7 linked regions of the Homo sapiens genome follow. The protein of the gene in region 6 purifies or fractionates together with the protein of the main gene of each other region. This does not show direct contact. Each region holds a gene or a part of one and is shown on either strand. Other genes may lie near its edges.

Region 1 (4,288 bases), on a different chromosome or scaffold from region 6:
TATCCTCCTGGAGACGGGAACATTGAGGGAAAAATGCAGATTAAAAGCACAAAGAGCCACTTTGCCACCTCCCTGCCCTCCCCTCCCCCCTTCATGGAATCGCCACATTATAAGTAATTCCATTTTTCCTCTTTAGAATTAATAGGACCCAAGAAGGATGCATGGGGCAGAGGACAACCCTGGGGTGGCCAGAGATGGAGGCAGGGTATCCGGAGTGGGGGCTTAGAGATGGAGAGATGAAGAGGCAGGGAGAGGCAAGACAGGGGCAGAGGCCGGCACTCAGGGCCAGGGCTCAGGAGCTGGGCAGATGCACAGACCCTGAGGAGGAGAACAGGATGATGGGTAGGTTATCAGAGTCCCTACCTTGTTGTGATTTTTATTAGATGGTGCTCCATGGCTCTCACACATTGTTTAAGCCAATCCTACGGGCTGGAGCCGGCAGACCTGGGAGGGCTGGTGCTTTGTGGGGTCTCCTGCTAGAGACACCAGAGGCAGGGTAGGGCAGAGAAAGCAGAGACTCCAGAAACAGTATCAGTCTTCCAAGGAGCCCCAAGTTCTCTGTGTCCCATTAGGGCCAGGCTGTCTGGCCAAGGCAGGCAGGCAGGTAGAAGAGGGCTTTGCCTCCAGGCAGTGGGGAGGCCCCACATTTAAAAAGCCAGTTTACCTGGAAGAAGGCAGGCGGTGAGTAAATTCAGAGTCCCTGCACCCAGCCTGCCCTCCCATCAGTCCACATACCAGGGTCTTGAGGCTCAGGGCCTGTCTGAGGCCTAGGGCTGCTGGCCAGAGGGGGCAGGCTCCAGCCTTCCCTGGCTCCAGCAGGGAGACTTCGCTCATTCTTCTCTTGGCCTTTTCTTCCTACCTGGGCCAGGGACTCCCTGAGCCGTGGTGCCAGGGCCACCCAAGGCTGGGGAGGATGGGGAAGGGGGCGGCAAGCCCTCTTCTTGCAGGAGTCCCCGCTGAGCTCCCTTCACCAGGGGCTAGGTGAAGGGAGCGAGGCCAACCAGAAGCCCTAGTGGAGAGCCCATCCAGGGCAGGGGTTCCAAGGAGGACAAAAAAGCCGGTTAGTGAAGGTGCGCTCTGCGCCAGGGACTGTGCCGGCAGACACAGGCACTACTGACACCGCCCCCAGCCCTTCGGAGGAGTCCTCGGCTCCTCATCTCCAGCTCCAGCCCCTTTCCAGCCGGCTGGTGGGCGGCTGGGAGTGGGGACACTGGATCGGAGGGGACCCTTCACGGGAGTACTCGCTGCCCTCACTCGTCTCGGAACGCGGCTGGACCCGGAGTCCCCGACCGCAGCCCGCGCACGACCCCCGGGAGCCTGTCTCCGCGGCCGCCGACCCACGTCCGCGCTGCCGCCCCACTGCCAGGTGGCCCGAGAGATGCAGGAGGAAGGAGGGGCGCGCGGGGCGGGCGGAGGAGGGTGGAGCCGCCGGCGCGCCCCCTCCCTCGGGCCGGCAGGCGGGCGGCGCGGCGGGCTCGGCGCGGCGGCAGAGGAGGCGGCGGGCGCTGGGAGACACCGGACGCCCGCTCGGCTGCGCTGCGGCTCAGGCCCCCGCTCGGGCCCGACCCGCTCGGTCACCGCCGGCTCGGGCGCGCACCTGCCGGGTAAGTGGCGCCCGAGTCCCTGCCGCTGAGGCCACCACCGCGGCCACTTCCGTCGCCGCCGCCGCCACTGCGCGGAGCCTCCCGGCTTTGTCTGCGTCCTCTCGGCTGCGGCTCCGGCTGCGGCTGCGGCTGCGGCTCCCGGGCTCGGCTCTCGGGCTCCGCGGACTGCGCCGCACGGCGCCGGGGCTCGGGGGTCGCCAGCCAGCTCGCTCCCCGCCGGGGGTGAAACTTCGCCCAAGTTTGGGTTCTGGGGAGAACCTGTTGAAGCCAGGAGTGGCTCGGGGCGGGGACAGAGATGGTGGGAGTGGGGGGAGGGAACCCGTCTCGGGTTCTCCATCAGGGCCGTCCAGTGGGTGGGTTGTGTGTCCGCCACCCTGGGGCGTTGGCGCGCGCCCCTAGGGAAGGGGCGAGTGGGCCGTCGGGCCACCGAGCAGAAGGAGCCAGGGAGCGGGGTTGGCGTGGTCGATCCCGCGGACTTCCGCGAGGACAAAGTTTGGTTCTTTGGCCGCTTTGCGGAGCGTCTGTCTGGGTCCAGCGCGGAGAGCTGAAAGTGTCGCATAGACGCGCCCCTGACCGCACCTCCTCACTCCAGCCTCCGCTTCTTCCCCCACTCCACCCGGCCTTGGCTGGGGCAGGTCGTGGAAGAGAAAGGCGAAGGGGAAGAGGGACGACCTTTCAATGAAGGCCCACTACGTGCCAGGCCCCTTGCCTGGCGCCTCTTGCTTCCAATAAGAGCCCTCCCAACCCTGCGGCCCTCAAGTGTGTGCAGGGAGGGGACAGGGGGGAAGACTCCACTGTGCACCCGGGGGTGGTGGCCCCGCCGAACCCTCATAGTCCCTGGTTTCCGCAGTGAATGAGGCCCGCGGCTGGGGCCTCTGCACCCAGGCCTGTGTCCCTCCTCGCGGTGACCCTGAGCCCCATCCGGCTGCGGCGCCTCCTGAGCCTGCTTCCGCCCTTCCCGCAGCTGCGGCCCCAGGGCCATGCGGAGGCCCACGAGGAGGCCGGCGGCCACGCGCATCCCGTAGCCCAGGTGGCCCAGGTCTGCACCGCGGCGGCCTCGGCGCCATGGAGCCCCCGTATTCGCTGACGGCGCACTACGATGAGTTCCAAGAGGTCAAGTACGTGAGCCGCTGCGGCGCGGGGGGCGCGCGCGGGGCCTCCCTGCCCCCGGGCTTCCCGTTGGGCGCTGCGCGCAGCGCCACCGGGGCCCGGTCCGGGCTGCCGCGCTGGAACCGGCGCGAGGTGTGCCTGCTGTCGGGGCTGGTGTTCGCCGCCGGCCTCTGCGCCATTCTGGCGGCTATGCTGGCCCTCAAGTACCTGGGCCCGGTCGCGGCCGGCGGCGGCGCCTGTCCCGAGGGCTGCCCTGAGCGCAAGGCCTTCGCGCGCGCCGCTCGCTTCCTGGCCGCCAACCTGGACGCCAGCATCGACCCATGCCAGGACTTCTACTCGTTCGCCTGCGGCGGTTGGCTGCGGCGCCACGCCATCCCCGACGACAAGCTCACCTATGGCACCATCGCGGCCATCGGCGAGCAAAACGAGGAGCGCCTACGGCGCCTGCTGGCGCGGCCCGGGGGTGGGCCTGGCGGCGCGGCCCAGCGCAAGGTGCGCGCCTTCTTCCGCTCGTGCCTCGACATGCGCGAGATCGAGCGACTGGGCCCGCGACCCATGCTAGAGGTCATCGAGGACTGCGGGGGCTGGGACCTGGGCGGCGCGGAGGAGCGTCCGGGGGTCGCGGCGCGATGGGACCTCAACCGGCTGCTGTACAAGGCGCAGGGCGTGTACAGCGCCGCCGCGCTCTTCTCGCTCACGGTCAGCCTGGACGACAGGAACTCCTCGCGCTACGTCATCCGCGTGAGTGCGCCCCCTGAGCGCCCTGCCAGCGGCCGCGGATCCGGGGCGCAGTGGCCTTGCCCAGGGGTCCCTGCGCGCGGGAGGCGGGTGCGTGAGAGGAGAGGAGGGAAGAGACGAGCAGGAGAGGGGAGGGGAGGGGAGCGCACAGAGGCAGAGCGCGGGAGGAGGGCGCAAGTAATTTCCCTGGGGTAATTGCGGTGTTTAGAGGAGCCGCGGGAGCCGCAATTTCCCAGCCCTCTGGCAGGCAGTGAGGGCCAGGAGGGAGAGGCGCGCCGGCGGGCTGGGTTGACGTCTCCGCGAGGTCTGGAGCTGGCCCCAAAGCTAGGGGTCCCAACTGTCAGTGGGGGACCTACGAATGCCCCGGACAGATAAGGAAAGTGCAGACGTACAGGGGTAAGATTGGGCATCCGCAGGCTGGGACAGTCAGGGATGGGGCTTTGGCCATCTCGTCTGGGTGGAAAGAGGAGCTGGGGTCTGCGTGCTTCTGTGGCTGTACTCATGGATGTCTGGTTGCTCTCTGGGCATTGGAGTGGGAATTCCCTCTGTTTAGGGAACCTGAGGTGTGGGCCTCTGACCTGTGGCCCCTGTCTCCCTCCCCAGATTGACCAGGATGGGCTCACCCTGCCAGAGAGGACCCTGTACCTCGCTCAGGATGAGGACAGTGAGAAGGTGCTGGGGCATGGGATGGGGAGGCAGGGAAGGCCTGGGGCCCCAGGAGGGGTGGATCCAGGCTAGGCCTGTCCCTGTCCCTGGGTGAGCCCCCTCCCCTGGTGCAGATCCTGGCAGCATACAGGGTGTTCATGGAGCGAGTGCTCAGCCTCCTGGGTGCAGAC
Region 2 (3,500 bases), on a different chromosome or scaffold from region 6:
AACAGAAAAGCTTTTGTATGTCTCTTTTTTTGTTTTTTTGTTTGTTTGTTTTTTTCTGTACATAAATATATGCCTTTCCCAATTTTTGTTTAGGAAACAAAAATTTCTAAACTATGCATTTTTGTAATAGTCTTTATTTCTTTTAGCATGTTGTAAACTTTCCCCATGTCAACAGATATTTTTCAAAACATTTTTATATCGCTTTGATTCATTTATATGGGTATATAATTGATGATAGTTGAAATAAGATTGGCAAAATATTATATTTGAAGCTCAAAATGGAATTCATTTTACTGTTTCCTCAGCTTTTGAGTGTGTTTGAAATATTCCAAAAGAAAAATCCAGACTTGAATGGTGTATTCCTGAGAGAGAGTTGCAATGGCCATCTCCACAAAACACCTGATGACTGAGGAATAGATGAGACGAGGGCAGATTTTTAGTCATAAAAAATGAGTTCAGATTGAGTTGAAGTTTTTGCCTACTGTAGATCATTAGATGGACTAATTTTTCATTTATGCATATGTCAAACTATAATTTTGCTGAGACATAGTATGGTTAGAAGGACGTAGTAGAACTTAAAGCTAGATAAATAATGAAGCACCATATTAGAAAGCTCTGAATTTCCATGTGATAAGTTTGTAGGCTAAAGGGGCAAATGCTTTAGGAAAATTTCGTAGCAATATGTTTGGTGTTTAAAGTAGGGAAGGTCTGAGTGAGAGATTGCAGTTAAAAGCTGTTTATTACTAAAGTGAAGGCCAGTTATCAGGAGGATCTGAACAGGGAAGGAAAATGGGCTGAAATCACAAGTTTGAGTTGACAGCTGAATGTTTCTAGGGAGTCAAATATCCCTAGGATTCAAATTGAGTTAACTGGGAGTGGCAAGTTGATTGATAGTAGTGAGGACAGAGAGACAGTCAAAGAAAGGTTTTAGCTCTGCTGAATATTTAGTCCCAAAGGAACATCCAGGTGGTGATGTCCAGTAGTTGGGAATGTAGAACTAAAGTGAAGAAGAAGGGAAACCAAAGAAAAAGTTGATAGTTTTTGAGACTACTGGAGTGGCTGTAATTTACCAGGGAGAGAGCAAAAAAGGGTGAGAGAACTAGTGGCAAACTTTGGTAACAGTTGCATATAAGGTGCAGGTGGTATAGGTGGAGAAAAAGAAGCTAGAGGAGAGGTGATCAGAACCAATTGTGTAAAGTGTTGTGGAAACTAAGAAAAAGAAAAATTTTAAAGAAAAGGAAGAAAAAGTTTAAGGATAATTGATAGAGCAAAGTCAGGAAGGAGACAGGAGGATTGGATCCAAAGTAAGTATACAGATAGAGGGATATTTTCTCCTCTGAAGTAAGATAATACTAAAAATGATGGTAGGGAGAAAAGGTAGCTTCATATTGATCTTTTTGGCAAATAAGGTGATAGCATGCACAGAGTAAAAGAGAGTAGGGAGAGTAGACTTTAGGGAAACAGGAAAGATTTACAGCTGATGTTTGAGAGACTTAGTTGTTTACAGACTGATCAAAAGAATGCTAAGCAGCCCTGAACACCTTGCCAAAGATGGATGGCTAACTTGATGCTAGATCCAAGCGGCAAGCTCAAGAGCAGGAAAGGGCAATAGTGGGGCTAGTAAAGCTGGGGATCAAAAAACATGAGGACGAGAAAATAAAATATTGGTAAGAACATCGTTGTAATCTTGAGACACAGGGTTGGATAGAAGAGCAAGTGGTATCAGGAGACCAACAGGACCATGAGAAGAAAAGAGGAATGATTGGGCCGGGAAGTTGCCTAAAAGTAGTGAGCAGACAGGATTGTAAGAGGTGAAAAATAGGAGCTTGTGATCAGAGACTAATTGAAAATGAAAGATCTTTGATGTGGACAAGTTCCAAGTGATGACCGAGTCTAAAGCCTGATCTTCCCAGACAGCTGAAGTAAGAGAGGACACAGGTTGAGGAAACCTGAAGTCAAGTTATGAGAAAGGGGTGGTGTTACTTAGATTTATTTAGGATGGCCCTAAGATCTTTGGAAAACAAAGAGCCTTCTCATTCTTTCTCTAAGTTCTACATAAAGGGATAGCTTGGGCAAGTGCTGTTTTAGAGAGTGTGGGAAGAGTGACAGGAAACAAGTAGCACCTTTAAGTGCTAACACACCTAGAATATCTATAGAAGCATACACTAGAAGCTACTAAGGTCAGGGAAGGGACAGTATGGCTGGGAGACAGAGGTGGAAAGAATATTTTTTACTGTACATCTTTTTATACCTTTATACCTTTCAAATTTTAAACTACGTGTAACAATTAAAAAATAAGAAAAATAAAAACAACGTAGATATTACAGATGCAGATAGTAACCAGCTTGTTTAACTTTAAAGCAGTTTATCCCTTACTTGTTCTTTCTGGTTTTGAAAAAGATGAATGTGATGGGTACGGTTGATAAAAAGAATCTGTAAAAGTACGTTATTCATAGTATAGTATTTTGCTACATTATTTTCAAGCACTGCTCTCTTAATTTGAATCTTTCATCATATGTCTTGTAATCCCTGGAGTATTTTAGAATTTCCTTCAGTGGAATCACAGCTTTCCCTCACTCTAAGTCTGATTTAGCCATTAATAGAATCCTTTAAATAGATCTCTCTCTGTTCACTTCTTCAGTTCAAACTGAGAGATGTCATCTAACCTAAGAAGAGATAGAAAGCAATTAGGAGTTAGCATCCTGGCACTCTTTTTGGGATCCTGTGTCATCATCTGGTTTGAAAAGGTAAACATCTCCAGGATATCAGCACATTCAGGGTTTGAGAATTAGCACACTGATTCATCCAAAAGCCAAATAAAATATTGTTGAGATTTTCCTATTATTCTTCTATTAGTTAAATAACCAGAGGTAATGGCAATTATATATATTTAATTAAATACATTTAACAAATGTAGTAATTTCTATTGCAATAATTTACATGTTTTCCCTTTTAAAATCTTAAACCAGGTGTGAAAATCACATCAACACTGCAAGTGTTGAAGCTTATCAAGCAGGCTGGTGACCGAGTCCTGGTGTACTATGAAAGGCCTGTTGGCCAGAGTAATCAAGGTGCAGTGCTGCAAGATAACTTTGGCCAGTTGGAAGAAAACTTTTTGTCAAGCTCATGCCAATCGGGTTATGAAGAGGAAGCTGCCGGGTTGACAGTAGATACTGAAAGTAGAGAGCTGGATTCTGAATTTGAAGACTTGGCAAGTGATGTCAGAGCACAAAATGAGTTCAAAGATGAGGCACAATCATTAAGTCATAGTCCCAAACGTGTTCCAACAACACTTTCTATTAAACCCCTTGGAGCTATATCACCAGTTTTAAACCGTAAATTAGCTGTAGGAAGTCACCCACTACCACCGAAAATTCAGTCCAAAGATGGAAATAAACCTCCACCCCTAAAAACTTCTGAGATAACAGACCCAGCACAAGTGTCAAAACCAACCCAAGGATCTGCTTTCAAACCACCTGTGCCACCACGACCACAAGCGA
Region 3 (3,500 bases), on a different chromosome or scaffold from region 6:
CTTTCTCTCTAGATCATGGCTGTTAGAAGTCCCCTCCACAAAAACTTGCCAAGGAGTCATTTCCTGGTTTTTGCACTGCTGCCCTTCCCCGTCTCCTTAATCTCTTTTTAAGTAGGCAATTAACTTGTGCGTGCATGTGTCAATTATGCCTATAAAGACTGCTATTCTCTACAGGGCAAAAACCTCTGCCCTCCTGCCTCTGGAGGGGCCAAACTCAACTACACTGTGCTCATCGGAGAGACCCCTTGTGCTGTCACCGTATCTGAGACCCAGCTTCTCTGCGAGCCTCCCAACCTCACCGGGCAGCACAAGGTCATGGTGAGTGAGCCCTGCGTCTGTAATGCCTCCTTCCCGCCTCGTGGTGCATGTGTGATCTGTCCTAAGGAAAGGCTCTCTTCTGTCTCGTTGCCTGACTCACCCCCTCCATATCTCCTCATCTCTGGGTCCTACATCAAATTGGGTATAAGCTGAGAACACAAGAAAAGAAAGGCAGATGCCGAGGCAGGAAATTGCTTTTTATCTAGAGCTGCACTGTGTGGTTGTGGTCTGTCATGTCCTTCCTCGCACTGTAAGGATCTGCTGGCATGCCCGGGCTCTACACCTGTGTGCATCCATGTGCGTCTGTATGTGTACAATGCACAGGTTCACGTGGGCGGGATGGTGTTCTCGCCTGGCTCGGTGAGTGTCATCTCAGACAGCTTGCTGACCCTGCCAGCCATCGTCAGCATCGCGGCCGGCGGCAGCCTCCTCCTCATCATCGTCATCATCGTCCTCATTGCCTACAAGCGCAAGTCTCGAGAAAATGACCTCACTCTCAAGCGGCTGCAAATGCAGATGGACAATCTGGAGTCCCGTGTGGCCTTGGAGTGCAAGGAAGGTTAGTGGAAGCACACCCTCATTTGCTGGGTCCCTCTTTCTCCACCTGCCTTATTGCCCTTCTCCCTGCAGACAACTCCTATCTTTACTCCCATCGCTGCCAGCCATGCCTCTGCATTCCACTTTCACCCCTGTTTTCCCAGAACTTCTTTTGCTTATAGGGTCAGAGATGTCCAATGAAGAATGCCCACTGCATGAGGACCCAGGTCCAATTGCATTGTTCTAGTCCCTTCTTTGCCCTGACCCATCCCACAATCTGGCAAACACTTTCTCCCTCTCAGGGCCTCAATGTCCCCACAGTCAGAGTCCCCAGGCTCCACAGCCCCAGACTCTAGATCCCCCATGGGAGTGTCCAGCTCTTGTTTTTCTGCACACTGTCTTCGCAGCACGTGGGAGCAGCGGCAGCAAAGGCAGACAAGCACCTGCCTCATCTCCCCCAGGGTTTGTTTTCCATCAGTGCTGCAGGCTGAGCGCTCTGAAGGCCGCCACTTGCTGGTGTCCTTGGCTGTGGACGTGTGTGGGAGTGCAGATTGTGTTTTCTCCCATGTCCCACGCAACCACAGCCTCGAGGTGACGAGTGTACCTGGCGTCCTCTCAGGCTGAGGACCTGGCAGGCTCTCTGGGTAAACAGCTCAATTAGGAATGAAAACATTTCTCCTTTTGCTGCAAATGTCAAGATCAGAAACAAGCCCTCTGCTGGATGACAGGGAAGAGCTGGGCTGGGAAATAGGACATGTGGAGCCAAGGTTCCTCCTGGCAACAGGGCTGGTGAGTTTGGCAGAGGAAGGAGCCAGGAAGACAGGTGTGCCACCACCAAGGTGAGGCTTCTGAAGCCCTTGCCTTCCCAAACTCGGCTCTCAGCTGAGCGTCTCATGACCAGACCTCCCCTAGGCTTTTGCATCTTGATTTATTACCTTGATTAGAAAAGGGCAGCACTTTGCCTGTTCTGGTCTTTGCTGGACCCCCTCAGCCATGGTCTCTCACCTGCCTCCAGCATCTCCGTGATCTTTACTAAACGGCCCAATCATGATACTTTTTTTTCCTTGTTGAAACTACACTTGTAATATGTAAAGAGAAAATTTGAAATTATAGATAAGTATAGAGGAGAAAATAACATAAAAATCACCCATTTCCCCACCACCTAAAAACAGCTGGGAGTAGCCCCGCCCTCTGGAGACACACTCCCGTAATCCTCAGAGTCTCTACAAAAGGTCCTCCCCTCGTCCTTTGCAAACTTCTTCTCCCTCTTTCTCCTCCCCCGACTGGGGCTTCCCCACGAGCCTCTCCGTCTGCTTATTCTCATAGCTTTTGCTGAGCTCCAGACGGATATCAATGAGTTGACCAGTGACCTGGACCGCTCAGGAATCCCTTACCTGGACTATCGTACCTACGCTATGCGAGTCCTGTTCCCGGGCATCGAGGACCACCCCGTCCTGCGGGAGCTGGAGGTAATGCCTGCCTCCTGGGCCCAGCCACCCAGCAGGGATGCAGGCCCAGGGTATCCTAGGAAATCCAGATGAGACTCAGCAGTACTGAGTAAGGTTAGCAGGGAAGAGGGGTCAGTAGTTTGTAACAGCATCTCAGCAACAGAGCTATCAGGAAGGTTACGGCTGAGGGGGCACCCAGGCTCCTTGGGATGGTTCCAGGGTAAAGCTCATTGTTTGTCATTTTTTAATTAATGACTGAACTAATTAACTAAGATCCTGCCTCATTCTAAAATGGATTTAAGATGGCTTAAAGAAAGACACAGGATTCTATGAGGTTTGTTTGTTCATTTGTTGGTTTGTTTTACTAAAGATAATAAATCAGGCAGAGGAGATTAAGGGGAGACTAGTAAACTGAAGAAGTTTGAGGGGGCATCTCCTATTCTATCCTTGGGAAAATCAGGCAGCCTCCCCTCTGAGAGCTCCGCATGGAGCCCAGCCTCCCCGGCCCAGTGCAAGGTCAGAGCAGACTGTCGACCTTAGAGCCAGCTGTTCCTACATCATCACGGGTGAGTGGAATGGGGTGGGGTTGGTTATAGGCCTCAAACATAGGGTCCTACAGCTAGTGTCATCGCCAGCAGGCCCTCAGTGAGACCCTCAGGTAGGAGGCCCGATGCCTGTCCTCTGAGGGCGTCGCCTCCACCACACCCCACCCCAGGTACAAGGAAACGGGCAGCAGCACGTGGAGAAGGCCCTGAAGCTCTTTGCCCAGCTCATCAACAACAAGGTGTTCCTGCTGACCTTCATCCGCACCCTGGAGCTGCAGCGCAGTTTCTCCATGCGCGACCGGGGCAACGTGGCTTCGCTCATCATGACCGGCCTGCAGGGCCGCCTGGAATATGCCACTGATGTCCTCAAGCAGCTGCTCTCTGACCTCATCGATAAGAACCTGGAGAACAAGAACCACCCCAAGCTGCTACTCCGGAGGTCTGGCCCGCAGCAGTGGGTGGAGAGGGTGGCAGGAGTCTGAACCTGGACAGAGCACCTCATTATAGCAGGCCCCACAAGCAGCATGAGAAGGCCCACTCCCCAGAAGGGGCACCCATTCAGAGCAGCCTGTGTCCTCACGTCTCTGCAGGGCAGAATCTGACTTTCCCTCAGCCCAGGGAGACTACAGAGTCTGAAGTCACCCAGGTGTGA
Region 4 (3,500 bases), on a different chromosome or scaffold from region 6:
AGGATCCCTGTGAGAGAAGCAGTAATAAAACAAGGAGACCATTCATGAGGATAATAAAGCCAGAGTATTGGGAGATGAAAGTTTTAGGTTGTAGAGAATGGAGGTTCACAAACGCCTCCAAACATGCCATGTACATTGTGTTTTTTTCTAACCCTTTTGCTTTAATGTTAGCTCTTACCAGAGTGAATAAGCTAAAATATAAGGAAGCTATTTACAAAAAGCAGAATTCCTGAATCAAATTAATTCAACTCAACTTATATACACTGAGTATCTAACTTTCAATTTCATTAAAGACTCTATATTGGAGACATGGAAACGCAAATCCAAATATATCATTACATAATAACAACAACAAAAAAATCCCAGCAACCCACCCCTAGTAAACAGAACTAAATGACTCAGATTAAAATCGATTCTCTGGTTTTCTTTTTTTTTTAATTATAAATTTTAAAATATGGCCAGGGCGCAGTGGCTCACACTTGTAATCCCAGCACTTTGGGAGGCCGAGGTGGGCAGATCATGAGGTCAAGAGATTGAGACCATCCTGGATAACACGGTGAAACCCTGTCTCTACTAAAAATACAAAAAATTAGCTGGGCATGGTGGCATGCACCTGTAGTCCCTGCTACTCAGGAGGCTAAGGGAGGAGAATTGCTTGAACCTGGGAGGCAGACGTTGCAGTGAGCCAAGATTGCACCACTGCACTCTAGCCTGGGCGACAGAGCGAGACTCCGTCTCAAAAAAAAAAAAAAAAAAAAAAATCTTAAATATAAATAAAAAGCATGTGTGTTTTTTTGTTTTTGTTTTTTGAGACAGGGTCTCACTCTGTTGCCCAGGCTGGAGTGCAGTGGCATGATCTCAGCTCACTGCAGCCTCAACCTCCCAGACTTAAGCAATCCTCCAGCCTAAGCCTCCTGAGTAGCCGGCACTAACAGGCATGTGCCACCACGCCCAGCTAATTTTTGTATTTTTAGTAGAGATGAGGTTTCGCCATGTTGGCCAGGCTGGTCTTGAACTCCTGGACTCAAGGATCCGCCCGTCTCAGCCTCCCAGAGTACTGGGATTACAAGCATGAGCCACCACGTGCAGCCTCTGGTTTATTTTCAAGTTAAATCAGGTCTCTAGATTATTCACCCTCTTCTGCTATATGTCAGGCAGTTTGGGTACAGTGGTGAAAAAAAGATTTTTAAACTATCTACACATCAAATGAAATAACTTTTTTAAATGTCACAAATATTGTTACAATATTATTTTAATGTTCTGTATAGACATCTTTAATGATACCCACTTTTCCACAGTTTAAACAAATGAATTTTACTCTGTTGAGTATAACTCCTATCAAAATCCTTCTATTTCCCCATAGGAGAAAGATAATAAATGATATGCATCGGTATTTTAAAAATTAAAATATTTCAGTATTCATGCTGTACATCCACACATTTAAATAATTTTTCATGACTTCAGTAATACTACTGTTGGTTAGCAACTAGTGTGCAGGCATAGCTAAGAGGGCTACTTACTGGCTATCTTTTCATTTGCCTCAAACATTCGCAAGGCTGGTTCTATTTGTGACTATTTCTGCCTGAAAAGCAGATTGATGGATTTCCTCACACTTTCTGCCTCACAAGTGCCCTGTGTTTTGCTCACAATGTATCAGCTCTTCTTAGTTTTTCAGTGTATTTTCAGACCTGTGGAACTGTACTGCAGGAAGGAAGGCCTTGCAGCTGGTAGGTTTTTCATTGCGGGTCCTGCTCAAGAGCCAGATGTGACATTGTAGCAGGTTCTAGCCTATGGCCACAGAGGTGGGAGGTTATTGAACCACCACTATGCTGTACACTTGATTTTTTATTTTATTTTTTGAGACAGAGTCTCACTCTGTCACCCAGGCTGAAGTGAAGTGGTGTGATCACGGCTTACTGCAACCTCGACCTCCTGGACTCAAGCAATCCTCCCACCTCATCCTCCCGAGTAGCTGGTAGCTGGGTGTACACTTTAATCAGGCATGCACAACCTACTATCTTTTAAACAAATTAGTTTTATCTGTGTCATATCTCAAAATTTGGTTTTCTCAAGTAAAAAATATCAGAATGAACTGTTATCTATTATAGGGAAGGAGCGGGGAGGGGAGTGGCCGAGATCCTAGTTTCCATCAATTCATAGGGTAATAGTATTTACAGCTAAAGAGGATGAATAAGAAATTTTGTACTTTTTGGGGCCAAGAACAGTGGGTCACGCCTGTAATCCCAGCACTTTGTGAGCCTGGGGCAGAAGGACTGCTTGAGGCCAGAAGTTTGAGACCAGCCTGGGCAACACAGCAAGACCCCATCTCCACAAAAAACATTTTTTTTTTTATTTAGCCAGGCACGGTCATGCACACCTGTAGTCCCAGCTACTCAGGGGGCTGAGGCAGGAGGACCACTTGAGCCCAGGGTATTGGGGCTGCAGTGAGGTATGATCATACTACTGCATTCCAGCCTGGGTGGAAGAGCAAGAGCCTGTCTCGAAAAAAAAAAAAAAAAACATATATTTTTCCTTACAAATCAAGATTTACTTAAGCCTGATGATCTATTTGACTAAGTAAACTGATTTCTGACCAGTTATTAGATTCTGAGAGTTAGAGGCAGGAAAGATGAATAGACAAGAATGGTCCATAGACGCAAGGGAGCAGGACGTTGCAAATGAAGGTCAACTCTGTAAAATACTAGAGAGAGAGCATTAACTCAGCCCTGAAAGGCTCCCACTGGATTTGATGACTGCTGGGGGTCAAAAGTGCAGGGCAGAAGTCGTAATTAGTGACCTCAGAGAAAGCCATTTCAGTAAAGGGATACAGGGAAAAGTCAGACTGCACTGCACTGAGGAGTAAAAATGAAGCAGGCTAAGAGAAGGAAAATGCAAACAGCTTCTAAGAAGCTGGCTGTGAGGGGAAGAAGAGAAATACGGCAGTAGCTAGACTAGGATGAAAAGCAGAGAAAGATCTGGCTTATTTGTTTTCAAGAAACCAGAAATGTAAGCAAGTATAGAAGGGACAGGGTCTCGGCCCAGAAAAAAAGCTACAGAACTGTATCTAGGACTGCCTACTCTTTATTTCTATTGAACTGTCACGAAAGAATTTCAAAGTCCAAAAGTTCAAAATTGAATTCATTGCCTTTCTTTGGAAACTTGCTATTCTTTCTGTACTCCTCATTTTTCTAACAGGATCTGGCTATGGAGGACCCATAGGAAGAACCTGAGTCTTCTTAGACTCCTCTGTTACCTGTCCCATCCTATGCTTTAGCCATAACTACTGTTTCTTTAATGTATCACTCCATTTCTCATCCACGAAGTAAACACCTATCTTCCAAGATTCTACTCAAAAAAAAAAAAGGAGGAAGGAATAAAGAAAAAAAAAGTAAGAGAGACTCAGCATATTCTTTTTTATGAAGGCTTTCCTGAATATGCCTCTTCACCTTAACAAATTTAAGCATCTCTTTCTTTACAATTCTAATGGTTCCTATATGGTC
Region 5 (4,250 bases), on a different chromosome or scaffold from region 6:
AGAGATGGGGTTTCACTGTGTTAGCCAGAATGGTCTCGATATCCTGACCTCATGATCCACCCACCTCAGCTTCCCAAAGCGCTGGGATTACAGGCATGAGCCACCGCGCCAGGCCTAATTTTTGTATTTTTTTGGTAGAGATGGGGTTTCACCATGTTGGCCAGGCTGGTCTTGAACTCATGACCTCAAGTGATCCGCTCGCCTCAGCCCCCCAAAGTGCTAGGATTACAGGTTTGAGCCATCAGGCCTGGCGTTGTTTGTTTGTTTGTTTGTTTGTTTGTTTTGGGAGATGGAGTCTCCGTCGCCCAGGATGGAGTGCAATGATGCCGTTTTGGCTCATTGCAGCCTCTACCTCGTGGGCTGAAATCATCCTCCCACCTCAGCCTCCCGAGTAGCTGGGACTACAGGTGCATGCCGCCATGCCCAGCTAATTTTTGTATTTTTTGTTGAGACGAGGTTTTCCTGTGTTGCCCAGGCTGGTCTCAAAATCCTGAGCTCATGTGATTTGACCACCTCAGCCTCTCAGAGTGCTGGAATTACAGATCTGAGCTACAGCACCCAGCTTGAATTATTTTAATTTTTGATGCTATTGTAAATAGTATTTTAAAATCTCAACTTCCAGTTGTTCATTGCTAATACTTGTAAACACAGTTGACTTTTATATGTTGAGTTTATATCTTGTTACCTTGCTAAATTCACTTTTTTTTTTTTTTTTTTTTTTTTTGAGACGGAGTCTCACTCTGTCGCCCAGGCCGGACTGCGGACTGCAGTGGCGCAATCTCGGCTCACTGCAAGCTCCGCTTCCCGGGTTCACGCCATTCTCCTGCCTCAGCCTCCCGAGTAGCTGGGACTACAGGCGCCCGCCACCGCGCCCGGCTAATTTTTTGTATTTTTAGTAGAGACGGGGTTTCACCTTGTTAGCCAGGATGGTCTCGATCTCCTGACCTCATGATCCACCCGCCTCGGCCTCCCAAAGTGCTGGGATTACAGGCGTGAGCCACCGCGCCCGGCCGCTAAATTCACTTTTTAGTTCAAGTAGATTTTTTTTACAGATTTCTTAGAATGTTCTTCATAAACAATCATTCTGTCTACAAATACATTGTTACTTCTTCCTTTTCAATCTGTAAACTTTTTATTTCTTTTTCTTGCATTTTTGTACTGGCTAACACCACTACTATAATGTTGAATGAAAGTGGTGGACGTCCTTGCCTTATTCCCAACTGGGAGAAAACATTTGGTGGGTCACCACTTAGTATGATGTTTCTTACAGTGATCTCCTAGGTGCCTTTTATCAAGATGAGGAATTTCTCTCTATTTCTAGATTACTAAGTGTTTCATTGTTTATTATTTCTTTTTTTTTTTTTTTTTTTTGAGACAGAGTTTTGCTCTTGTTGCCCAGGCTGGAGTGCAATGGCGAGATCTTGGCTCACCGCAACCTCTGCCTACCAGGTTCAAGCGATTCTCCTGCCTCTGCCTCCCGAATAGCTGGGATTACAGGCATGTGCCACCACACCCGGCTAATTTTGTTTTTTTAGTAGAGACTAAAACGTTGGCCAGGCTGGTCTCAAGCTCCCGACCTCAGGTGATCCACACGCCTCGACCTCCCAAAGTGCTGGGATTACAGGCCTGAGCCACCGTGCCCATCCTGTTATTACCATTAATGGATATTGGATTTTGTTAAATGCTTTTTCTGCATCTATTGAGATGTTCATAGTTTTTCCTTTTTATTCTGTTAATATGGCGAGTTACTTCTATTAATTTTCAAATATAAACAAATCTTGCATTCCTGGAGTGAACCCTACTTCATTATGATGTATTACCATTTTTATATGCTGTCGGATTCAGTTTTCTAAAATTTTGTTAAGAATATTTGCACCAGGTGTGGTGGCTAATGCCTGTAATCCCAGCACTTTGGGAAGCCAAGGCAGGCGGATCACTTAAGGCTGGAAGTTTGAGACCAGCCTGGCCAACATGGCAAAACCCTGTCTCTACTAAAATTACAAAAATTGGCCGGGCGCGGTGGCTCATGCCTGTAATCCCAGCACTTTGGGAGGCCGAGGTGGGTGAATCACAAGGTCAGAAGTTCGAGACCAGTGTGGCCAACATAGTGAAACCCCGTCTCTACTAAAAATACAAAAAATTAGCTGGATGTGGTGGTGTGCGCCTATAATCCCAGCTACTGGGGAGGCTGAGGCAGGAGAATCCCGTGAACCCAGGAAGTGAAGGTTTCAGTTAGCCAAGATCGTACCATCGCACTCCAGCCCAGGCGACAGTGCGAGACTCCATCTCAAAAAAAAAAAAAATACAAAAATTAGTCAGACATGGTGGCGGGCACCTATAATCCCAGCTACTCAGGAGGCTGAGGCAGAGAATTGCTTGAACCTGGGAGGCAGAGGTTGCAGTAAGCTGAGATCACACCACTGCACTCCAGCCTGGGCAACAGATTGAGACTCTGTCATAAATAAATAAACAAACAAACAAACAAAAATTAGCGGGCATGGTGGTGTGTGCCTGTAATCCCAGCTACTTGGGAGGCTGAGGTGGAAGAATCACTTGAATCCAGAAGGTGGAGGTTGCAGTGAGCTGAGATTGTGCCACTGCTCTCTAGCCTCAGTGACAGAGCAAGACTCCATCCGCCCCCGCCAAAAAAAGAATATTTGCATCTATGTTCATGAGGGATAGTATTCTGTAGCTGCTTTTCTTCTAACATCTTTGTCTGGTTTTGGTATCCCAATTAGATTTAATTAGCTCTCGTATTTCCTAAGTCATATTTCTAGAGTTAAATAGTTTTTGTTTTTCATAACATGATTTTTTCATTGGCTTGTCCTTATCAGACCAGAGCAGGGTATCAATCTTCCAAAATTCAGGCTGCTATGGTAGGGAGAAGCAGAGATCCTTTTGAATAGTAACAGTAATGTCAAGTGTTACATACTCCATACTCCTCTGCCAAAATATATCATGCATGAGCCTGTTTAGTCTTTATGATATTATAAAGTAGATAATAATCATCATTGAATAGAACAGGAAGCAGACCATGACAGGCTAAGCATCTTGCCCAGCCTACAAGATTGTGAATCTAATATAAGTGGCATACCAAAGATTAATACCAAGTCTCTAACTTCATCTTTCCGTGATGTTGTAATGACTAGTGTGGGCAGAGCCCATCTGACCTGTGACAGATAAGCTGACGTGAGTCTTGCATTTGAGGGTTCTGTAAAATCCTGAGGCATATGACTATTAAATGTGAAACCATCAAGTGTTTATTCTTCTATTTTATATGTGAAACTTGGGCATATACTTAATTATCCTATGCCACAGAAAGATTCCTATTGCGATTCACTTAAATGATCTTCTGTAGGGTAGCATTTAAGTCAATTAGAAAGATGAAAATTAAATGTCTTCAACGTATATACACACACGTTGTGTATGATTATAATTTTTTCTTTTTTTTTTTCTAGCAATGAAGCTTGGAGATACATGGGTGGCTTTGCAAAGAGTGTTTCCTTTTCTGATGTATTCTTTAAAGGATTCAAATGGGGATTTGCTGCATTTGTGGTAGCTGTAGGAGCTGAATATTACCTGGAGTCCCTGAATAAAGATAAGAAGCATCACTGAAGATAATACCTGGAAGCATCATAGTGGTTTCTTAACTCTCCAAAATAAGATTTCTTCTCTGTAGCCTACTTGTCTGGTTTATCCCTTACAGAATATTAGTAAGATTTAATCAATTAAAATATATATATATGCCAATCTGCTTTTGTCATTCTTAAAAAAAAAAAAGTGTCTCAAGCCATATCAGATTTGGTTTAGAATACATAGGGGGTTGGAGAACAGCAGTAGTGCGTTCTGCATATAGCAGGCAGGCATCATATATTTGGCTGAGCAAATGGGCATGTTCTAAGAAGTTTTTTTTTAATCTTTTTCTTTTTTTTTTTTTAACTAGTCCTGACCTAGCTGGCACTAACAAGTATTTAAATGGGAGTTGGCCTTGCTGTTTTTTTTTTGAGATGGAGTCTCGCTCTGTCACCCAGGCTGGAGTACAGTGGCGTGATCTCGGCTCACTGCAAGCTCTGCCTCCCGGGTTCACACCATTCTTCTGCCTCAGCCTCTCAAGTAGCTGGGACTACAGGCGCCCGCCACCATGCCCAGCTAATTTTGTTTTTGTATTTTCAGTAGAGACAGGGTTTCACCGTGTTAGTCAGGATGGTCTCGATCTCCTGACCTTGTGATCCACCCGCCTCAGCCTCCCA
Region 6 (4,157 bases):
TTGTAATCTTTGATTTTTTTGCATTTGTAATGGCTTTGTACTTAAGGTAGGATTACATGTTTACAGATTGTGGGGGAAAAAAAAAGAAAAGTGAAGGGAGAGAAAAGACAAGGCGAGTGGCCAGAGACCCTCAGGATCCAAGAGTTAACTCTGATTAACTCAGATGCTTTGTTCAGCCAATTTCAGACTTCTTTTTTCCTAATACAAGCACTTAAGGATAAGCCTTTCTGTAAGAACTGCCTTACATGCATCATAGTATTTTAAATGTAGTGTTTTCATTCTTCTTCTAGTCTAATTACCTTCAACTTCTATTATTAGTTCTCTTAGACCCATTAGTTATTTAAAATTGTGTTATTAACAATTTCTAAGTTCATGGGGTTTCCTCTTTTTAAATTGCTCTTTACCTTCGTTGTCCTTCGTGGTGCTCTCCGTGGAAACCTGCTTTCTGATCTAGTAAGTGCTTATTCTTTGTGCATGTCCCTAGACTTGAAATCACTGCATAATCCCTAACTGTGTGTGTCCTGGCTTAGTGCATCTAATGAATGACTGAATGAATGCATCTTTGCCTTTGCCTTACCCCCGGGCCTGAAACATCGTCTTGGTCCCCTTCTCAATACCTTGGATCCTTGGAGATCAAGGTCCTGGTTGTTCTGGCAAGTTCAACACAATCTGGCCTCATGATCAGAGTCCTGTCCCTGAACTCAAGACAAGGGAGGGATGGGCAGAATTACCTCATGCTGTGCCAGGAAATATGAGTCTCATGGGGCATGGCCTGTGTGCCTGGGCAAATTCACTGCCTCACTACCCTGTGCTGAGATGATCTCTTTTTTTTTTTTTTTTTTTTTTTTTTTCTGAGATAGAGCCTCACTCTGTCACCAGACTGGAGTGTAGTAGTGCAATCTGGGCTCACTGCAACCTCCCTCTTCCCGGTTCAAGCAATTCTCCTGCCTCAGCCGCCCAAGTAGGTGGGACTACAGGTGCGCACCACCATGCCTGGCTGATTTTTGTATTTTCAGTAGAGACGGGGTTTCATCATGTTGGCCAGGATGATCTCGATCTCTTGACCTCGTGATTCACCTGCCTTGGCTTCCCAAAGTGCTGGGATTACAGGCATGAGCCACTGCGCCCGTCCAATCTCTCTTTCAGGGACAGATGTTCACTCTCTCTTGCAGCTCTGCCTGCCAGACTAAGCCTGAAAATATCTCTGCATCTGGCATTCCTTTACCACCTATGTGGGGCACAACCCAGAACAAAGTCCCTCCAAGTGTACCCTACTCTCTTTCCATTATCATTTCTCTGGTCTGAGATAGATGTTTATGACCTGCCAATAAATGCAGTGACTCAAACTCCAGTGCCCATACTCCTCATTCATACAGCCATGTTTAGGGAGGCTCTAGGGAGAAATGCACAGTTTGACATCGTTCATGAAGAGCCTCTCCACGGCTCCTGCGCCTGAGACAGCTGGCCTGACCTCCAAATCATCCATCCACCCCTGCTGTCATCTGTTTTCATAGTGTGAGATCAACCCACAGGAATATCCATGGCTTTTGTGCTCATTTTGGTTCTCAGTTTCTACGAGCTGGTGTCAGGTAAGCCTTTCAGTTTGGACTGTTGTTTTTCTCCTTGTTGAATAATATTTTGAGTTCATTCATGACAATGATCTCAGCACAGTGAGATGCAGGAATCTTTGGTGCTTGCATTCTCCAGCTTCTCCTGGCCTCAGGCTGGAAACTACCAATGCCAGGAGCTGTGGGAAGCACAGGGCAGCAGGAATTGAGGAAGACTCCTTGGGCTGTTTCTCAAGGACTTGGGCACTATCACAGTAGCTCAGAATAATGGGAGCAGGCCCTGGGAGCAGGGAGGGAACACATTGAGAACGCCAAGGTAAACACATTGTTCTCCCCAGGTGGGCTGTGGGGCTTAGGCAGGGGAAGTCTCTAATAAAATCCCCAGGTTTTTGACTTGGGTGCCTGGGTGGAAGGTGGCACTGTTTAGGATGTTTGGAGAAAAAGACAATGTGTCCAGTTATGCACATGCTGAGTTAGAAACACCTGTAGTTATGGGGTAGAGCACCAGACCTTTAAGTGAGGAGTAAGTTGGAACCTGGCATAGTCTAGGCAGAAACCCACTCTTCTTTCTCCTTCTAGTAACCATCAAGACAAAGCCTGGTGTATAGGATATTCAGTAATCAAATAAATTTTGCAGGGAGAGATAGGGGCTGGAGTAGAACACTGGATTCTGGGTGGTCAGTGTTAAGCCACAAAAAGTTCATTTGACTGTGTTCACTTTCTGTCTGGAACAGTTCCATCCTGCTATTTGTCTACCTATGACTGTTTTGCTAAACAAAGCCAACAAAACAGAAATAAGGGGATCAAAATCCATGTGTGCTCAGAGGGCGTGGTGGCTCACACCTGTAATCCCAGCACTTTGGGAGGCTGAGGTGGGTGGATCACCTGAGGTCAGGAGTTTGAGACTAGCCTGGCCAACATGGTGAAACCCCATCTCTACTAAAAACACAAAAATTAGCCGGGCATGGTGGTGAGCGCCTGTAGTCCCAGCTACTCGGGAGGCTGAGGCACGAGAATCACTTAAACCCAGGAGGCGGAGGTTGCAGTGTGCCAAGATCGTGCCACTGCACTCCAACCTGGGTGACAGAGTGAGACTTTGTCTCAAAAAAACAAAAACAAAAAATCACAATCCACGTATGTTACTCACAAGACAGCCTCCGTTTAAGTACATTCTCACCCATTTTCTGACAAGCCTTTCTGTCTGCTTTCTGTTTCTGCATGAGGCAGCAGGGCATGCTGGAAATGACCTTAGAGGAAGTAACACTATTTTTAAAACTTTCCTTTTCTCTATGAGCTTGTGGCTAATAACTTCTATTAGCATCAATTTTTGCTTATGATGACATAGAGATAATAAGATCACATCTGTGACATTCCTGTGGCTGAAGGGCTGCTGTGTGGATTGCGTGAACTCGTGCATGTAGAGCGTCCAGCACGGAGCTCCGCTGGGGCACAGTATGTTGCGACAACAGACAGTGTCATTCCTTGCTTCTCCCCAGGGGAAGGAGTAAAGGGAGACGCTGTCGGCAAGACAAATGACAGCAGCAAGGCTGGCCGGAGAAACAGACATATACTAAAAACTGTTTGCCTGGCTTGAGAGTCTCACACAGCCTTGAAGGCAGCACTCACAGCAGCCCAGCTGACAGGCTGGGTCCCAAAAGCTGATCTAGAGCAAGGGCCTTTCTGCAGGTGGTTTGTTTAGCAGACTGTTCTCAGAAACAAAAGTGACAGGGTGCAGAGAGTGAAGCCAGCGGGAGGTAAGCCATAGAGGGTGCGCTAATGAGCAGGTTGCTGCGGTGGCAACTGGGACCCAGTCCCACTGGGTCCTTTGGAGGAACTGTATAGACGATGGCTCAGGATCTTCCCAACATCCACTGCTTCCTGTTCCCCACTGGGTGAGATGTGCCCCTCCGGGACTATTAAAATCGCAAACCTTCTTGGCCACCCTGTGCCTGGGCTGAGGAGGTTCCAAAGGTTGCAAGAAGCCATCAGCAGAGAGGCAGAGGCCAGGCTCCAGGGGCGGAGCTGTCAGCAGGCAGGCAAGTGCCCATCCCATTCCAGGGGGACTCAGGGTTGGGTGGTGAGGAGCAGGGCCTCAACATCTGCTACACCAGGTCAGCAGCTGGTCTGACACCAGGCTGCAAAGTCACGCCTCACTTAATAATGCTCTTAAAGATGCATGAGTGAAATACATTTCAGCAAGATTTATAAAATGTACTTAAACTTAGAAATAATTAGTGCTAAAATTAAAAATATCCACTTATCTGGAAATTCACACATGGGATCCACTTTGCCTCTGATGCACATGCAGATACCACACACAGATATATCCATATACCATAAATGGATACATGTGAATGAATCAAGAGACACTGCCAATCAAAGGGGGTGGGTACTTAGAAGGTGAAGGGAGTGGGCCTCCATCGTTTGTGGTCTCTCTAAGAAGAACTCTAATCATACAGAGTTGTAAGTGTGATTTGCACCAGAAAAATTACTTAGTTGACCACAAAACCAAGAAGCAAATGCAAAAAGAAAGTAGCGCTCACCATTCCTAGGCATAATCCCTGTCTGTGGAGCCCATTCTCCATGCTG
Region 7 (3,500 bases), on a different chromosome or scaffold from region 6:
GAGTTAAGATATGTAAATCGAGTATTATAATCGTTGGTATCATCATTATTATTGATACTTCTTATAGTAGCCCTATAAAGTTAGAATGGTGGTATCTCCACGTTACCTATGATGAAACTTGGACTCTGAAAGGTTAAGTGACTTGCTAGCTAAGTAAGGGGTAGAGCTGCGTTTCAAACCCAAATCTGTGTGGCTGCTGGGTCACACTCTTCTATACCACACTGCCTCCATGCCCTGGTCAAAGTGTTCTTCAAACACAATTTTACTAAAGGACAGAATGGAAATTTGATGTGTGGCAAAGTACATTTAAAGCTTGAATTCTGCATTGGTAATTGTCACACAGGGAAATGAACTGTGTGGAATAGCCAGTCACCTACATCGATGCCTTCCTGAGTCCTGAATGGTGTAAATTGACAATAGTTTTCGTTTTCCTACAGGTTCACTTCTTAAAAGAGGGATGTGGAGACGACAATGTATGTAACAGCAACCTTAAACTAGAATATAAATTTTGCACCCGAGAAGGAAATCAAGACAAATTTTCTTATTTACCAATGTAAGAATCGTTGTGTAGCACTAGCAAAAATGATTCTGGCTTCATGGTGGCTTTGTGTTAAGAAAGTTTACTGGAAACGTATTGAGGACTTTGCCTTTTTGTTCTTGTTTTCTTATTTTTAATAGTCAAAAAGGTGTACCAGAACTAGTTCTAAAAGATCAGAAGGATATTGCTTTAGAAATAACAGTGACAAACAGCCCTTCCAACCCAAGGAATCCCACAAAAGATGGCGATGACGCCCATGAGGCTAAACTGATTGCAACGTTTCCAGACACTTTAACCTATTCTGCATATAGAGAACTGAGGGCTTTCCCTGTAAGTATTGTTAGAGACCAGCTGAGAGGGGAAAAAAATCAACACTGTGTGGCAAATGAGTGGATTGTGACCTAGCGTGTGTTTCTTTTACAGGAGAAACAGTTGAGTTGTGTTGCCAACCAGAATGGCTCGCAAGCTGACTGTGAGCTCGGAAATCCTTTTAAAAGAAATTCAAATGTAGGTGATGCCTTCATATACTGTATTTTACTGTTTTAAATACCATTGCAGTGTCTGTATGCATGGCCTGTGTTAACAGCTATTTATGTTTTTTTAGGTCACTTTTTATTTGGTTTTAAGTACAACTGAAGTCACCTTTGACACCCCAGATCTGGATATTAATCTGAAGTTAGAAACGTAAGAGTTACATCAACCTCTCCATTCAGAATTATTTCATGAAAATATGGGCAGTCAATGAATTGGCCCTGATCTACCTCATAAAAGAAGTCTAATTGTAGTGAGAAAACTGACTGGTAAAATACAACCCTATTGTTTCCTTTTCATTTTCAGAACAAGCAATCAAGATAATTTGGCTCCAATTACAGCTAAAGCAAAAGTGGTTATTGAACTGCTTTTATCGGTCTCGGGGTAAGTGTTTGTGTTTAGCATAACAAATCAATGTTTGAAAGAACCATTTACAATCCTCATTAAAACTGGTGTTTTTTAATTTGACAGAGTTGCTAAACCTTCCCAGGTGTATTTTGGAGGTACAGTTGTTGGCGAGCAAGCTATGAAATCTGAAGATGAAGTGGGAAGTTTAATAGAGTATGAATTCAGGGTAAGTTGGAGCAGTTGGTCTTTTCATTATACCAAAAGCTGACATATACTAGGTATGGTCTTGAGTATGTCATTTTAATAAATCAGCAATATTAATAAGCATTGTAAGTAAATCATGAGTTAAAAATTAGTTTGCCAGCTTTTAAAGAACATACTGGCTTATAGTAAAAATTTTATCCTCCAGGATGGAGAACAATTGTCACTGTTCAGAATCCAGTTCAGTTTAGAATGCGTTATGATTTATTCCTTCCTCCTTTATAAGGTCATCTTTCTCACTGCTTGTGGTTGAAAGAATATTAATGTATGCCTACCTTTCACAAGCCCAGTTTTTGTGGTGAATGTAGATTTGGTATATGCCTGTAGGAAAGGCAGTGACTGGCTCTGAACCATTTCAAAGTAGGCAATCACAGTGACTCTCTGTCCTGTTGAATAAACATAAACATAGGGTACAGAGTCTGTTCGTAACTCACACATGGGTTTAGGTCTGTGTGGCTGAAATCACATTCCTGAAGGCATAGTGACCACTGTGGTGAAAGCCTCAAATGGCAAGCATGGGCCCACCTGACTCCGGCAGAATGAAGAGGCTGAATTCTCCTCTGTGTGTCTCTTAGCATTATAGACACAGCTGGGGCAGGTGGTGGTGGTGGTTATGATCTCTATGCAGGTGCAGCTGGAAAAGAAGTCTTTGGGTTCTGGAACAGTCTCGACACCAAGAGGGCTCTTACCTCCTGTGTTTGGCTTCTGCCGCAGGACGTCACTCTGTTCCCAGCTTGGACTCTCAGATTCATGGCTGTCCTAATAATGGTTTTGCAGAATCTCCTCTGGGACAGAGGCAGCTTCATTTTTGCAGTGGATGGGGTTTTCCAGAAGCAGGTTGTTGGTACACTGCCTTGGCCCAGGACTTGTCATTGGCCAAGCAGGGTGGTTACAGGGCAGTTCACAAATTCACACATGATTTTCCCTGGGCGTATGTTGAGAACATGGTATATCTACACTGCTGATTCTGTTGCATACAGCAGTTGTTCCTAGAACGAGTTAGCTATCAGTTGTCCTTTGACCTTTTTGTTTTTATTTACAAAAATCTTTAGGCACAAGTCTTTATTTTGAATGCCCTATCTATAGTCCATTTTTGGAGCCTGTGCTTTTATTATAGGATTACGTTAGATATTTTAGCTTCTTTCTCTTGGTAAAAGGAGCTGCTACTTAAATTTACATTGAGAAGATTAGACTGAGATAATATGTATTATTTTCTAACAGGTAATAAACTTAGGTAAACCTCTTACAAACCTCGGCACAGCAACCTTGAACATTCAGTGGCCAAAAGAAATTAGCAATGGGAAATGGTTGCTTTATTTGGTGAAAGTAGAATCCAAAGGATTGGAAAAGGTAACTTGTGAGCCACAAAAGGAGATAAACTCCCTGAACCTAACGGTATGTCGGTAGATTTATCTAATGTCTCCATAAATGCAAATTAGAGAAACTAACTTGTTAGGGGAAAATCATTACTGTTCTTAGGAAAGTGGCATATTCTGGCAGGTTGACTTTCTCTTTGGTTGTCACAATTTCTCTTTTCTAGTTGGGTAACTGAGGGAGGCTGAGGCATTTTTGCTGGTTAATGACCATTATAGTACATAAGGCAGAGTCATTCAGTGCTTGCTGAGGCAAATGGTATTTTCTGATGTTTCATCATGACCCAGTATGTTACATAATAAGGAGAACTGGGGGATGCTCCTGGGGTAATAGTAGCTGCTGTTATCCAGGGGCCAGCCAGTGTTCACTCCAAGTAGAACCAAACTCATTGGAAAAGATAATGGCATCTCAGCAAGTAACCTTGAAAGCTTTTTATGCTTATTTTTAA

Evidence for each region.
Region 1: the proteins of BTNL3 (region 6) and ECEL1 purify together in Homo sapiens (affinity purification with mass spectrometry; one large-scale study listed by BioGRID and IntAct). This does not show direct contact.
Region 2: the proteins of BTNL3 (region 6) and PDZD8 purify together in Homo sapiens (affinity purification with mass spectrometry; one large-scale study listed by BioGRID and IntAct). This does not show direct contact.
Region 3: the proteins of BTNL3 (region 6) and PLXNA2 purify together in Homo sapiens (affinity purification with mass spectrometry; one large-scale study listed by BioGRID and IntAct). This does not show direct contact.
Region 4: the proteins of BTNL3 (region 6) and CGRRF1 purify together in Homo sapiens (affinity purification with mass spectrometry; one large-scale study listed by BioGRID and IntAct). This does not show direct contact.
Region 5: the proteins of BTNL3 (region 6) and NDUFB3 purify together in Homo sapiens (affinity purification with mass spectrometry; one large-scale study listed by BioGRID and IntAct). This does not show direct contact.
Region 7: the proteins of BTNL3 (region 6) and ITGA6 purify together in Homo sapiens (affinity purification with mass spectrometry; one large-scale study listed by BioGRID and IntAct). This does not show direct contact.

What each region holds. Positions count from the first base shown.
Region 1 is NC_000002.12:232,485,035-232,489,322, reverse strand, and holds the start of ECEL1 (endothelin-converting enzyme-like 1), read left to right. Parts: upstream 1-1,488; 5' UTR 1,489-1,604; intron 1,605-2,568; 5' UTR 2,569-2,669; coding exon 2,670-3,455; intron 3,456-4,055; coding exon 4,056-4,124; intron 4,125-4,231; coding exon 4,232-4,288. UniProt on the Homo sapiens protein: May contribute to the degradation of peptide hormones and be involved in the inactivation of neuronal peptides.
Region 2 is NC_000010.11:117,284,941-117,288,440, reverse strand, and holds part of PDZD8 (PDZ domain-containing protein 8), read left to right. Parts: intron 1-2,641; coding exon of another isoform or gene 2,642-2,670; exon of another isoform or gene 2,671-2,747; intron 2,748-2,969; coding exon 2,970-3,500. UniProt on the Homo sapiens protein: Molecular tethering protein that connects endoplasmic reticulum and mitochondria membranes. PDZD8-dependent endoplasmic reticulum-mitochondria membrane tethering is essential for endoplasmic reticulum-mitochondria Ca(2+) transfer.
Region 3 is NC_000001.11:208,041,885-208,045,384, reverse strand, and holds part of PLXNA2 (plexin-A2 precursor), read left to right. Parts: intron 1-174; coding exon 175-318; intron 319-642; coding exon 643-877; intron 878-2,181; coding exon 2,182-2,324; intron 2,325-3,018; coding exon 3,019-3,287; intron 3,288-3,500. UniProt on the Homo sapiens protein: Coreceptor for SEMA3A and SEMA6A. Necessary for signaling by SEMA6A and class 3 semaphorins and subsequent remodeling of the cytoskeleton. Plays a role in axon guidance, invasive growth and cell migration.
Region 4 is NC_000014.9:54,523,406-54,526,905, reverse strand, and holds part of CGRRF1 (cell growth regulator with RING finger domain protein 1), read right to left. Parts: intron 1-3,500. UniProt on the Homo sapiens protein: Able to inhibit growth in several cell lines.
Region 5 is NC_000002.12:201,082,001-201,086,250, forward strand, and holds the end of NDUFB3 (NADH dehydrogenase [ubiquinone] 1 beta subcomplex subunit 3), read left to right. Parts: intron 1-3,458; coding exon 3,459-3,615; 3' UTR 3,616-3,750; downstream 3,751-4,250. UniProt on the Homo sapiens protein: Accessory subunit of the mitochondrial membrane respiratory chain NADH dehydrogenase (Complex I), that is believed not to be involved in catalysis. Complex I functions in the transfer of electrons from NADH to the respiratory chain.
Region 6 is NC_000005.10:180,987,489-180,991,645, forward strand, and holds the start of BTNL3 (butyrophilin-like protein 3 precursor), read left to right. Parts: upstream 1-1,357; 5' UTR 1,358-1,540; coding exon 1,541-1,589; intron 1,590-4,157.
Region 7 is NC_000002.12:172,486,586-172,490,085, forward strand, and holds part of ITGA6 (integrin alpha-6 isoform b preproprotein), read left to right. Parts: intron 1-437; coding exon 438-553; intron 554-678; coding exon 679-868; intron 869-961; coding exon 962-1,045; intron 1,046-1,142; coding exon 1,143-1,222; intron 1,223-1,375; coding exon 1,376-1,453; intron 1,454-1,540; coding exon 1,541-1,643; intron 1,644-1,953; exon of another isoform or gene 1,954-2,064; intron 2,065-2,899; coding exon 2,900-3,073; intron 3,074-3,500. UniProt on the Homo sapiens protein: Integrin alpha-6/beta-1 (ITGA6:ITGB1) is a receptor for laminin on platelets. Integrin alpha-6/beta-1 (ITGA6:ITGB1) is present in oocytes and is involved in sperm-egg fusion.